Linked DNA regions of Homo sapiens. The protein of the gene in region 1 purifies or fractionates together with the protein of each later gene. This does not show direct contact. Each region holds a gene or a part of one and is shown on either strand. Other genes may lie near its edges.

The links. The genes of interacting proteins can lie anywhere in the genome.
Region 2: the proteins of EIF4G1 (region 1) and EIF3I purify together in Homo sapiens (affinity purification with mass spectrometry; 7 studies listed by BioGRID and IntAct, with this or other methods). This does not show direct contact.

What each region holds. Positions count from the first base shown.
Region 1 is NC_000003.12:184,324,580-184,331,605, reverse strand, and holds part of EIF4G1 (eukaryotic translation initiation factor 4 gamma 1), read right to left. Parts: intron 6,729-7,026; coding exon 6,492-6,728; intron 6,338-6,491; coding exon 6,233-6,337; intron 6,127-6,232; coding exon 5,967-6,126; intron 5,911-5,966; exon of another isoform or gene 5,835-5,910; intron 5,756-5,834; coding exon 5,655-5,755; intron 5,080-5,654; coding exon 4,977-5,079; intron 4,726-4,976; coding exon 4,623-4,725; intron 4,391-4,622; coding exon 4,158-4,390; intron 4,021-4,157; coding exon 3,902-4,020; intron 3,777-3,901; coding exon 3,604-3,776; intron 2,976-3,603; coding exon 2,850-2,975; intron 2,698-2,849; coding exon 2,616-2,697; intron 341-2,615; coding exon 242-340; intron 135-241; coding exon 1-134.
Region 2 is NC_000001.11:32,225,400-32,232,123, reverse strand, and holds the end of EIF3I (eukaryotic translation initiation factor 3 subunit I), read right to left. Parts: intron 5,954-6,724; coding exon 5,804-5,953; intron 5,722-5,803; coding exon 5,594-5,721; intron 3,626-5,593; coding exon 3,515-3,625; intron 3,398-3,514; coding exon 3,308-3,397; intron 2,990-3,307; coding exon 2,916-2,989; intron 1,198-2,915; coding exon 1,105-1,197; intron 1,010-1,104; coding exon 928-1,009; 3' UTR 520-927; downstream 1-519. UniProt on the Homo sapiens protein: Component of the eukaryotic translation initiation factor 3 (eIF-3) complex, which is required for several steps in the initiation of protein synthesis.

The DNA.
Region 1 (7,026 bases):
TCTATCCAGTCGAACACCCGCTGGTTACTGCTGCCCTCCTTCAGCAGCTTCTCCAGCTGCCTGTTCAGCTCCTCGGAGGGGAGTGCCCTCTGGCCAGGGGCTTCCGACTCCTCTCCCAGGGTATACTCCACCTTCTGCAATGGAAAAGGCCCGCAGTTAAGAGGTAAGGTTGCCAACAGGAGACAAGAAAGAAGACTGGCCAGCCTCAAATGCTAGAATTAACCCAACTCCATCCCCAAACCTGTTCAGCGACGAATGCACCAATGTCCTGGCCTTCAGGTAGAAATTCCTTCCAGCTAAGCCCGGCTTCTCGCCACAGCGTCCCCACCTTTTTAGGACCCTGGAAAACACAAGACCAACCCAGCTTACCAAAGCTCTCTCTCTCCAAGGACCCAACAGCTCTACCACATTAATCCAACAAATATTTACTGAAAGCCTACTAGGTACTTGCTAGGCATTAAGGATGCTATAGAAATACTAATAGGCAAAGCCCTTCCATTCCTACGGTCTGGTGCAGGGCACAGATGTCAGTCAAATAACCACCCAAATAAATAAGAACTCGTCCCAGGAGCGGGCGGTGGCTCACGCCTGTAATCCTAGCACTCTGAAAGGTCGAGGTGGGCGGATCACCTGAGGTCAGGAGTCGGAGACCAGCCTGACCAACATGGTGAAACCCCGTCTCTACAGAAAATACAAAAATTAGCCAGGCGTGGTGGTGGGTGCCTGTAATCCCAGCTACTCGGGAGGCTGAGGCAGGAGAATCGCTTGAACCCAAGGCGAGGGTTGCAATGAGCTGAGATCACGCCACTGCACTCCAGCCTGGGCGACACAGCGAGACTCTGTCTCAAAAAAATAATAATAATAAAATAAAATAAAAGAGAACTTGTCCACCAAAGTGCTATGACACTAGGGTAGGAAAAATGATGTAAGGGCCTCTAGGAAGGGACAACTTCTAACAAGTATGCTTGTTTCCTAAACCCAGAAAATCTTAAGACACAAATATACCCCATCCCTAACACAAATAAAAAATCCTCATAAAACCAGCAGTCTGAGTGCATTTTCTGTAAGGGGCAATAGACTATGAAGACATCACTCTTTTCTTTATAACAGACTAATGGCACTGGCTCTTAGCAAGATTATTGCAGTTCACAGATTTTAAAACATGCCCATTTTTTCACATTTTAACTAAAAGTTGTCTTACAGCCGATATATATCTTTTTTTATTTTGAGACAGAGTCTTGCTCTGTCGCCCAGGCTGGAGTGCAGTGGCACAATCTTGGCTTACTGCAACCTCCCCCTCCTGGGTTCAAGCAATTCTCCTGCCTCAGCCTCCCAAGTAGCTGGGACTACAGGTGCGCACCACCATGTCCAGCTAATTTTTTTGTATTTTTAGTAGATACAGGGTTTCATCATGTTGGCCAGGCTGGTTTCCAACTCCTGACCTCACGTGATCCACCCACCTCTGCCTCCCAAAGTGCTGGGATTACCACGCCCGGCCCAGTCTTTTCTTTCTTAACAGCGCATAAAGAATGTCTTATAATCTATGGCACCTTGGAGTTGATGAAATACACAAATAGTTCAATATGCTTATTTGTTGTTAAAAAACAACTTGTCCTGGTACACGTCTATTTAAAAGAATTAAATGATGTTGACATAACAATTCCTTTAAATCCCAAGTGTGATTCCTCCAGGTTCCAGATGGCTGAACCCTTGAAACTGCACACACTCACCCCAACTTCTCACTTCCACTAAGTACCACATTCAACTTACCTTTCCCCATCTCTTTACCTTTATATTCGCTAGTTACCAATTAACTTTCACAAAGCCGCTTCAGCACCCTGAAAGCCTCCTGTCACAAATATTGTCAAATATTCCTTTGCAACCCCACAGTACTTAAGATACTCCACTCTATTTCAACTGTTTTATGTCACGCTTTACTGTTGTTTTTATCAAGCTGTCATTTCTTTTTTCTTTTTTGGAGACAGAGTCTTGCTCTGTTTCCCAGGCTGGAGTGCAGTGGCACAATCTCGGCTCACTGCTACCTCCGCCTCCCGGGTCAAGTGATTCTCCTGCCTCAGCCTCCTGAGTAGGTGGAATTACAGGCACCTGCCACAACACGGCTAATTTTTGTGTTTTTAGTAGAGATGGGGTTTCACCATATTGGCCAAGCTGGTCTTGAACTCCTGACCTCGTGATCCACCCACGTCGGCCTCTCAAAGTGCTGGGATTACAGGCGTGAGCCACTGCGCCCGGCCCATTTCTTCCTTTTTCTCTACCAACTTGTTTCTTGTGTTTTATTCATTGCTGTGTCCCTAGTGCTTAGTATATGATAAATGATCATCAACAAAACCCTAGTTCAATGAATGAATAAATAAATGCATCAATCACAGGCCTAGGGTCTTAGACTGCCATTCTCCTCCAGTCTTGGCCAGAACTCATGATAGGAACTGGTGTGCGGGAGATGGCCCACCTCAGTATTTCCTCTCCCAGGTACCAACACAATCCTGTCATCACCATCACTCCACTCCACCAATGGACCATGAAGCTTCAGGGCCACAGCAAACAGCCAAAACCACACCGTGGGAGGCATCTCTGGACTCCTGGCCCTCACTCACCATGCTTTTGCACAGGAGGCCCAGGATCTCCAGCAACAGGGAAGCAGCTTTGCCCAACGGTCTCAGAGGCTTTGTAATCTCCCTACAAGAAGAGAAAAACCTAATGCTGACAGCCTCCACAGTTCTCTCACCACTACTCCATCTCCCTCCAAACCAGGGTATCCAACCCAGCCATTTCCCTACCACCTTTCCTCTGGTCTTTACCTCCCCTGAATTCCACCCAGGGGGACTTACCTGAACAGCTCCCCCATGGGCACCCCACCTTCCTGCAGAATGGGTGTTACCAGTTCCGCTAGGTAGAGCCACACGTGGGGGATGTCAATTTCCATGTCCTCAGCCAATTCCAAGATTTCATACAACCTGCCAAGGGAATTCAAAGTCAAGACATTCTAGGCCAGGTCCCCACTCTCCTTCTGGGGCAACGTGGCATGGCTAGGGCATCAACTATGGAACCCCCAGGAACATTTTCTAGACATGGGGACAATTATTTCAAGCTAAGGCCACCTCTGTGTCCTTAGATGGTTTTCACCCCGCTTAACCCCCTAAAGTTATGCTGACCAGGATGGTCAAGGAACCCATACTGTTTTTTGGTTTTTTTTTTGAGACAGTTTTGCTTTTGTCACCCAGGCTGGAGTGCAATGGCACGATCTCGGCTCACTGCAACCTCCACCTCCCGGGTTCAAGCAGTTCTCCTGCCTCAGCCTCCGAGTAGCTGGGATTACTGTGCCACCACGCCTGGCTAATTTTTGTATTATTAGTAGAGACAGGGTTTCACCATGTTGGCCAGGCTGGTCTAGAACTCCCAACCTCACGTGATCCTCTAAGGAATCCAACCCACCTTGGCCTCCCAAAGTGCAGGGATTACAGGCATAAGCCACCACACCCGGCCAGGGAACCTACACTCTTATGCAAGGTTCCAAGGGTCCCAAAAAGGAGATAGAAAATTGTGGGTCTGTATAAGTGGGAGGCCCAGAGAAGCTGGTCATACCCTTGGTAGTACTGAGCAGTAGACAGATGCCCAGCACAGAGCAGCTGGTGCAGCAGCTGCCCCATATGCTCACGAGCAATGGCACTGCGCTCCAGCGTAGACTCGACACCATGCCGTACAAAGATGAAGAGCAAGGAGGGTGAGGCCAGCTCCTGCACGCACTGGACTGCCTCCTGAGGGGTGCAGGGCACAGCAGGAAGAGACCAGTCACTGTCTGACCCAGACCCCGGACCCCTATGCCTGCCAGCATGATCCCTCCCTGCCCACTCCTCAATCACACGCCGCTCCCACTGCCTACTTTCATGTCATTGAGATGGAGATATTCCTCAATGATAGCCTTGGATTTCTTCTCTAACTCCTCCTCAGAGAGAGCCGCCTTCAGGGGGCTCACTGGGGGTAGGGCAGCTTCTCGCTTCACTGTGGGAAGAGAACACAGATTAGAGGGACTTTTCAGTCTTCCCAGCAAACAAGATTTGGAGCTCTCAAAAAGCTGGGGACCAGCTAGTCCCAAGGCAGCCAATGCCTTTCCCTCCATTCCTCTCCCAGACTCTCACCGGCATCCCGCCCACGGTCCCGATCCTCCGTGAGGCTAGCTGCCTTGCGCAGCCCCTCAGGCTGGGAGGGCCGTTCTCTACTCCGCTCCTCCACTTCCTTGCTGAAGCTCCGCTTGGTAGCAGGTGTCCGCGCACGATCAAGCCGGTCCCCACGGTCCCCTCCCCGTTCACTCCGCTCTAGGCGGTCTCCTCGGTCTCCAGCTTTCTCGCCTCGTTCTCGGCTCAAGCTACTCCTGGAAGACAGACAGACAAATTTTCACTCACTTGCACTGCCCAGGCACTCATGTAATTACACAACATGCTGAGCAACTGTTGGGCCTTGTTCTTAGCATAATGAGTATGCCCCAATCTAACCCAAGGGCTCCAACCAGGACAGGTATGAAGAAATTTCCAACCTATGGCAACAACCAGAACCCAATCACGGTACCCCCAGTGTGAATAACAAAGATGTCCAGGAAACCTCACCTCTGCACCACACGTCTATTATCTGTGCTTTCTGTGGGTACCGCTTGTTGAAGGGCTGAGAAGCGATTCAAAGTACTAGTAGCTGGGCGAGCAGCTTCTGATGCTGGGGATGCAGAAAATCCGTATTAAAATCTTTTTCTCCTTTCCTGCATTTTATCCCCTACTTGCCAGTTTAGGACACTTGGTCCCAGTCCCAAAAGTAAAGCAGTTCAATCCCTGGAACCACAACACAAACCTCCTCTATTGCCCGCATTGCCTAACCACCTTGTACTGAAGGCCTCCCTAACAGAAAAGGCTCTGTCCTCAAGGGAGCTCTGACGGGTAACCACCCAGCTCCTGACACTGCCTCCATACCTGCGTCTGAGGGCTTGGCTCCTGAGCCTCCGCTGCTGCCCTTGCCCCAGCTCAGTCGCCCTCCAGGTGCAAAGAGCTGGTTGTTAGAATCGATGGAGCCAGGCTGAAGAAGAAAAGGGGAGTAGAATCATAGGTCCAACCCGGCTGAGTCCCTTGGCCAGCACCACCATATGCAACCAAACAGGTAGTGAATGGCCCAGTCCAGGGGTCAGAAAATCTTTTTTAATAAAGGGCCAGTCTCTATTGCAACTACTCAATTCTGCCACAGTAGCATGAAACCAGCTGTAGATGATAAAGGCATGCTGTGACTGTGTTCCAATAAAACTTCATGGACACTGACATTTACATTTTATTTAATTTCCACAGCATAAATTACCATTCACTTTTTGATTTTTCGCAACTTTAAAATGTAAAAACCACTACTGGGTCCTGGGATGTATGAATGGGCTGGATCTGGCACGTGTGTGTGTGTGTGTGTGTGTGTGTGTGTGTTTGCCAAACACTGGTCCAGACTAATGGGAGTACCACCCTCCCTCTACAGCTGGCAGTCCTGTCTCCAGCAATCCAACCAGTTAGTCTAAGAGGAAACATTCAGCTGTCACCTTCTCAACTTTAGAAAAGTGAAGGGACTAAGATCTAAACCTGAGCTGAATCACCCACTCCCACACACACCCCTACCTTGGTGATCTTGGTGAGTCGTGAGGTGTCAATGGGGCGGCTACCTTTGCTGATGGGAACTGTGTTCCAGCCACCATCATCCACAAGGGGAAGTCCACGGCCTGACACAAAAAGAGGGGCATACTGGAATAATGAATAAATCCTAGCAGCCCCTTCCCCTTGGGCCACCCCCAGCCTCCCTTCCTCAGATCCTCAGTTCCATCATGGTGTCTCAGTGGCCCAGACACGTGGCACTAACAGGAAGTCATCAGAGGAAAGTATAACCTCCCGGTCCCTTCACTGCTCCCTTCTCAATCCCAGCTTGGAACTCACTGATGGGAGGGCCTGGAGGACCGCCCCGACGCTTGTCACTGCCCTTGGCCATGAGCTGCTGCACTTTGATGTGCTCTCGATGTTCTTCCATCTCAGCCTCCTTATGGATCTGGTCAATGGTCTTGGGACCCTGATCCCCTCGGCGTGGCACCCAATTGCTCTGTGGAGACAGAGGGCCAGTCACGATGATGTCAGGGAAGGCAAGACAAGGCAGTGTCAGAAACTGGAGGCAGCAGGCTGGCAGTGGGGAGGAGGGGGACACACACCCCTCGCAGATCCAGCACGTCCTGCAGCATAAAGCGGATGCGGGATGACGTCTTCTTTTCTTTAATGATTTTTTCCATCTGGTTGAAATACTGATCCATTCGGGGCTAGGAAGGAGAAAGGCATCAGACCAGGAACTTCTCATGTCCCACCTATAACTGCAGGCCCCACCCCTCCTCAGGCCTTCCGCCCCATCATTGTGGGCTCAGTGAGCCCCACATATGCTTCAGCCCATCCCCCTCCAGATGCAAGGACCTCTACCTTGGCTTTTTCAAAGTCCAGGTCTTTGCCAATGGTGGTGAGCAGACGACAAAGGCACTCAAGGGACTCTTCATCATGGTTCTTAAGCAGTTTGACCACACAGTCATGCATTATTGCCTCTGTTAACATCTTCAGTTTGAACAACTCTCCAATAAACTTGATATTCCCTAAAGAGCGCCGCCGGGCTATGTCCCGAGCCTCTTCCAGCTCTTCCTTCAGGCGTCCTCGTTCCTCTGCCTGCCATTCACAGGACAGGGATTGTGTCAAAAAGATAACCAGCCACTCGGCTAAAACCCTTTTCTACCTGGATATCCAAACCTAGCAATAAGCACTCAGTCCTGAGGCCGGCTGGCTGGGCATAGTGGCTCATGCCTGTAATCCCATCAATTTGGGAGGCTGAGGCAGGCGGATCACTTGAGGTCAGGAGGAGTTTGAGACCAGCTTGGCCAACATGGTAAAACCCCGTCTCTATTAAAAATACAAAAAAATTAGCCAGGTATGGTGGCACATGCCTGTAATCCCAGCTACTTGGGAG
Region 2 (6,724 bases), on another chromosome or scaffold:
AGCAACAAAGACTCCAGAACCCACTCTACCTCCTCAATCCCTTGGCCATCTGTGGAGCCCCAGAGCCTGCGGCTGTGGCAAGGTGAGCTCCACACCTTCTCCCCTGGGTATTACCCCTCTGCTCAGCGTCCTGACCTGTCTTCCTCCTCCTCAGGCCTGTTTCTGCGCTGGACCTGCTCACCTGAGCCTGCAGAAGCTGCATGGGGGAAGAGTGTGGCAAATAGTGACAGGAAGGGAGAAGACAGAAGCCTCTCAGCCAACTGCTTCAGCCGAGCCCCTATTCTAAGCACTGGCTCCTTGGATAGCAGCTGAGATGTTCCTGAAACCTCTGCAGGCCCCTTAGGACCTTTACACCTTGGATGAGGGTGCCTGCAACCCAGGTTAGCCAAAAGTACTGAGGGTCTTAAGTTTGAAGTGTCCAAAGTATAGGGAGGTCTCAATAATAAAAGTCTCCATGATCAGCATCAGCTTGCTGGGGTGTCAGTGAAAAGGAAAAATGATGAAACAGACACCACAAAATATCTGACCAGAAGCCATTTATTACCAAACCAATTTATTTCTTAGAGTTCAAAACCTTCTGTGAGAATCTTCTCTGGCCTGGTTGGAGATCCACCTTCTTCTTTTTTTTTTTTGAGACGGAGTTTTGCTCTTGTGGCTCAGGATGGAGTGCAATGACGTGATCTCAGCTCACTGCAACCTCTGCCTCCTGGGTTCAAGTGATTCTCCTGCCTCAGCCTCCTGAGTAGCTGGGACTATAGGCGTGTGCCACCATGCCTGGCTAATTTTTGTATTTTTAGTAGAGACGAGGTTTCTCCATGTTGGTCAGGCTGGTCTTAAACTCCTGACCTCAGGTGATCCGCCTGCCTTAAAAAAAAAGTGGTGGGATTACAGGCATGAGCCACCACGCCCGGCAGGAGATCCAGCTTCTTAAGCCTCAAACTCAAATTCGAAGTACTGTGGGTCGAAGTAATGGATACGGACGTAACCATCTTCGCCGCCGCTGCTGTAGCTGGAAAAAGATAGCCAGGCACCAGTCAGGTGCTTACTCTGGGAAAGGCAGAGACCCAACCCAGGCTTAGGTCAGCTGCTTCACTGGTACCCTACCTCTTGCCATCAGGATGGAAGGCAACACTGTTGATAGGTCCAAAGTGACCCTTGACTCTTCCAAACTCTTCTTCAAAGGCCAAATGGAAGAACCTGGAGGAAAAGGGACACAATTAATTCACTTTCTATCTTCTTCCAAAACACTTTGGAGGTGGCACTCCCCAAATGCAAATTGTTATTATTATTTATTTATTTTGAGATGGAGTCTTACTCTGTCACCCAGGGTGGAGTACAGTGGCGCAATCTCGGTTCACTGGAACCTCCCCCTCCTGGGTTCAAGCAATTCTCCTGCCTCAGCCTCCTGAGTGGTTGGGATTACAGATGCCTGGCTAATTTTTGTATTTTTAGTAGAGATGGGGTTTCACCATGTTGGCCAGGCTGGTTACGAACTCCTGGCCTCAAGCCGCCTTCCTTAGCCTCCCAATGTGCTGGGATTACAGGCATGAGCCACCACACCTGGCCTCAAATGCAAATTGTATCACAAAAAATAAAGCAGAAGCCGAGGCGCAGTGGCTCACGCCTGTAATCCCAACACTTTGGGAGGCCGAGGCGGGTGGATCACTTGAGGCCAGGAGTTTGAGACCAGCCTGGCCAACATCTCTACTAAAAATACAAAAAGCAGCCAGGGACGGTGGCCATGTACCTGTAATCCCAGCTACTCAGAAGCTGAGGTAGAAGGATCGCTTGAGCCCAGGAGGTTGCGGTGAGCAGAGATGGTGCCACTGCACTCCAGCCTGGGCAACAGAGTGAGACCCTGTCTCAAAAAATAATAATAATAAAGCAGAAAAATTGAGATAAGAAGTGAATGTGAACAAAATAAGATGGAAATTGGTGGCTGCGTGCCATGGTTCACGCCTGTAATCCCAGCACTTTGGGAGGCTGAGGACAGAGGATTGCTTGAGCCCAGGAGTTCGAGGCCAGCCTGGGCAACATAGTGAGACCCTGTCTCTTACTTTTTTAACTTTTTTATTATATGGGGAAGACTGGACCCAGATGTCTGCCTGAATACATAACTAATACTTATAGAGTGCCTACTATGTGCTGGGCAGTGCTTAAAGAGCTTAATAAATATTAACTGAATAATTTAATCTGCATAATTTTATGTTAAGTATATTGTCATTGTCTCATTATACAGTAGAGGAAATTTAGACATAGAGAAATATAATGAAGGCTGGGCACAGTGGCTCATGCCTGTAATCCCAGCACTCTGGAAGGCCAAGGTGGGCGGATTACTTAAGGCCAGGAGTTCAAGACCAGCCTGGCAAACATGGTGAAATCCTGTCTCTACTAAAAATACAAAAATTAGCCAGGCGTGGTCATGGGTGCCTGTAATCCCAGCCACCCAGGAGGCAGAGGCAGGATAATTGCTTGAACCCGGGAAGCAGAGGTTGCAGTGAGCAGAGATCGCGCCATTGCACTCCAGCCTGGGTGACAGAGCAAGACTCCGTGTCAAAAAAAAAAAAAAAAAAAAAGGCTGGGCACGGTGGCTCATGCCTGTAATCCCAGCACTTTGGGAGGCTGAGGCGGGCGTATCACGAGGTCAGGAGATCGAGACCATCCTTGCTAACACGGTGAAACCCCGTCTCTACTAAAAATACAAAAAGAAAATTAGCCAGGCATGGTGGTGGGCGCCTGGGCCGCTGAGGCAGGAGAATGGCGTCAACCCGGGAGGCAGAGCTTGCAGTGAGCAGAGATCACGCCACTGCGCTCCAGCCTAGGCGACAGAGCGAGACTCCATCTCAAAAACAAAAACAAACAAAAAAGGTACACCACATGAGATTTTAATTTGGAAGAGCTCTCTTCTTCTTTACCTGGCCTCAAACTTGCCAATCCTGGTGGAGGTTGTGGTTACATCCATGGCTTCCTGACCACCGCCCAGGACCACCTGAATGGAAGAAGAAACTCTAGATGGGACCAATGGACACCAAGTCCATTTTGTGTTTTTCTGCTGCCATATACATTTTTAACATCTCACACGGCTCAATGGGAGGATACCAAAGGTAGGGGATGATCAGACACTTCTGCCACCTCCTGCTGGCTGCCCTGGGGCTATTCAATCCTTCCAGCTTTGTCACTCCTCTGGGCATCTCCTCTCTGCCTGACATCATTTCCCCCACAATGTTGTAGCCCAACTTCTGGACAAGCATCTAGAACTTGGAAGCTTCCTGAGGCTTCAGCAGGAAGGCAGGTGGGGTTCTCTTACATGGTCATAGTTGGGGGAGAGGGCAGCTGAGTTGACAGGACGTTCTGTCCGGAAAGTCTTCTGATGTTCAAGAGTTGTGGAGTCAAAAAGCTGGAGAGAGAAGGCAGGGGGGAAATCTGTAAAGAGCTTTCCTGGGGGAAGTCGGGCAGGGTGAGCTGTGCAGCCGGAGGGAGGGAGCAGCCCTGCCAGACCGCTGCCCAGGCTCACCTTGGCTGTGTTGTCCTTGGACGCGGTCACAAACATGGTCATGTCCCTGGATAACTGGATGTCGTTGATCTGCCGGGAGTGCTCCTTAACATTCACCAACACCTCTCCAGACTAGGGAAGGAAGAAGAGTGACACTGAATGGGCCCAATCCCTACTAATCTCAGCTCCCCAGAAACCCAAGCACCCAAATGAAAGCTGAGACAGCATGGACTTTGTGTTTTCCTCACCCCCTCTATCCTATCAGTCACCCCTAAATATCCCTTGACTCTGTCCAGTAATGTACATCCTATGCCTATTGGCTAGTTCAGGTTCACTCTCCAAACATAAACTGCAAAAGCTGTTGGAAGGAAAATCTGGCCATTGATAACCCTTTAAAGATTCCCTACTGCCTGGAGGAAAGTCAAAACTCTTTACCTCCTCACACTGAAGGACGTTTAAAATCTATTCCCCGTCCTCTGTCCCCAAGACCACACCCCAAGGGTTTCTGAAGACTCCATACTTTCTTAACTCTGTGCCTTTGCCTTTGCTGTTCCTTTTGCCTGTGGGATGTTCTTTCCTTCCTGCTTGAAGCTCCATTTATTCTCCAGGGTTTAATGTACACGCCACCTCCCTGGGAGAGTGCACCTTCCACACTTGGCTGAGACCTCTATGGTGGCACAATTCACAATCTGACTCAGGTGCTAGCTGTTTGCAAGTCTGTCTCCCCATGGGGGAAGGGACTGCATCTGATTTACTTCTTTGTTCTAGGAGTTCAGCATTATACTCAGCATTATACAGGGCATTATACTCAGTGGTGGCAAGGAAATGCTCATTTGTGATCCTTAATTATTTTTTTGAGACAGGGTCTTGTTCTATCACCCAGGCTGGAGTACAGTGGCACAATCATGGCTCACTGCAGCCTCAATCTCCCAGACTCAAGCAATCTTTCAGCCTCAACATCCTGAGTACCTGGGACCAAAGGCACACTCCACCACACCCAGCTAATTTTTAATTTTTTTTTGTAGAGACAGGGTCTTCCTATATTGCCCAGGCTGATCTCAATCTCCGGGTCTCAAGCAATCCTGCCACAGCCTCCCAAAGTGTTGGGATTACAAGTGTGAGTCACCACACCCGGCCTGTGATCCTTATTAACATGTCCTGAGTACTTTGTGACAAGTTTTTCAAACATGTGATATCATTTGATCCTTGAAACATTTTACAGATAAACAGGGTCAGAGAAGTCATGTAAATTGCCCAAGATCACACAGCTAGAAAGTGGTGAAATCTACATTTGAATCTCACCTCTGCTCTTTTTAAAATTTTTTATTAACTTTTTTTTTTTTTTTTTTTTTTTTAGAGACAGGGTCTCACTGTCACCCAGGCTGGAGTGCAGTGGTGCAATCATAGCTCACTGCAGCCCCAACCCCTGGGCTCAAGAGATCCTCCTGCCTTGGCCCCCAAAGGCACTGGGATTACAGATGTGAGCCACAGCATACAGCCCTGCCCTTGTTCTGAACTAGTGTGCTATCACCAGGACCCGAGGCAGGTGGATCATCTGAGGTCAGGAGGTCAGGATTCAAGACCAGCCTGGCCAACATGGAGAAACCCCATCTCTACTAAAAATACAAAAATTACCCAGGCATGGTGGCAGGTGCCTATAGTCCCAGCTACTCAAGAGGCTGAGGCAGGAGAATGGCTTGAACCCAGGAGGTGGAGGTTGCAGTGAGCCGAGATCGTACCACTGCACTCCAGCCTGGGTGACAGGGTGATACTCTGTCTCAAAAAAAAAAAAAAAAAAAAAAAAAAGCCACGAGCGGTGGACTGCCTGAGGTCAGGAGTTCGTGACCAGACTGACCAACATGGTGAAACCCTGTCTCTACTAAAAATACAAAAAAAATTAGCCAGGTGCGGTGGCATGCACCTGTAATCCCAGCTACTCGGGAGGCTAAGGCAGGGGAATTGCTTGAACCAGGGAGGTGGAGGTCGCAGTGAGCCGAGATGGCGCCACTGCACTCCAGCCTGGGCAACAGAGAGAGACTCTATCTTAAAAAAAAAAAAAAAAATTATTCTGGTAGGCTCAGGCCCCATGTGGCCTCTTACCTTGGCACTATACTGGTTGAGCTCTCCACTCTCATGGCCAGCGATGATGCACTCCCCCAGGGGTCCCCAAACAGCACTGGTGATTTTAGAGTCATTGCAAGGGATCTTCATGTAGGGCTCATTGTTGTCTGTGTGGGGCAGTAGATGTTAGGCCCTGGGCTCTAGAACTGTACCCTTTACCTCAACCCCAGCCCTATTCCCAGCCCTCACCAATCTGGCTCGGATCCCGCAGGTCAAAAAAGCTCACAAAGCACTGGTAGCCCATCTGCTTGTCCGTGGAGAACATGATGATGTTGCCCCCAAAGTCAAAACCGCAGGTCCGGACAGCCGAATTGGTCTTGAGAAGGGCCAGCTGCTTTCCTGGAGTCAGGCAAAGTCTGGGCTACACCATCCATTGCAATTGCAGGGAGGACATTCTAGAGAATGCTACCATCACATCTCACTGTTTGTCTTGCTCCAGTGACCCAAACTTAAAAAGTATTTTAACTTTTCTTTTTTTTTTTCTTTTTTGAGACAGTTTCACTCTGTTGCCCAGGCTGGAGTGCAGTGGTGCAATCTCGGCTCTCACTGCAAGCTCCGCCTCCCGGGTTCACGCCATTCTCCTGCCTCAGCCTCCCAAGTAGCTGGGACTACAGGCGCCTGCCACCATGCCCCGCTAATTTTTTGTATTTTTAGTAGAGACGGGATTTCACCGTGTTAGCCAGGATGGTCTTGATCTCCTGACCCGTGATCCGCCCGCCTCAGCCTCCCAAAGTGCTGGGATTACAGGTGTGAGCCACCGCGCCCGGCCTTTTTTTTTTTGAGATGGAGTTTCGCTCTTGTCCTGCAGGCTGCTGTGCGATGGTGTGATCTCGGCTCACTGCAACCTTTCAAGCGATTCTTCTGCCTCAGCCTCCTGAGTCGATGGGATTACAGGTGCCCACCACCATGCCTGGCTCATTTTTGTATTTTTAATAGACGGGGTTTCACCATGTTGGCCAGGCTGGTCTTGCACTCCTGACCTCAGGTGATCCACCTGCCTCAACCTCCCAAAGTGCTGGGATTACAGGCGTGAGCCACCACACCTGGCCAAGTATTTTAACTTCTTACCTAGACTCTTTCCTCAGACATCCTGCTAATGTGGCACTACTC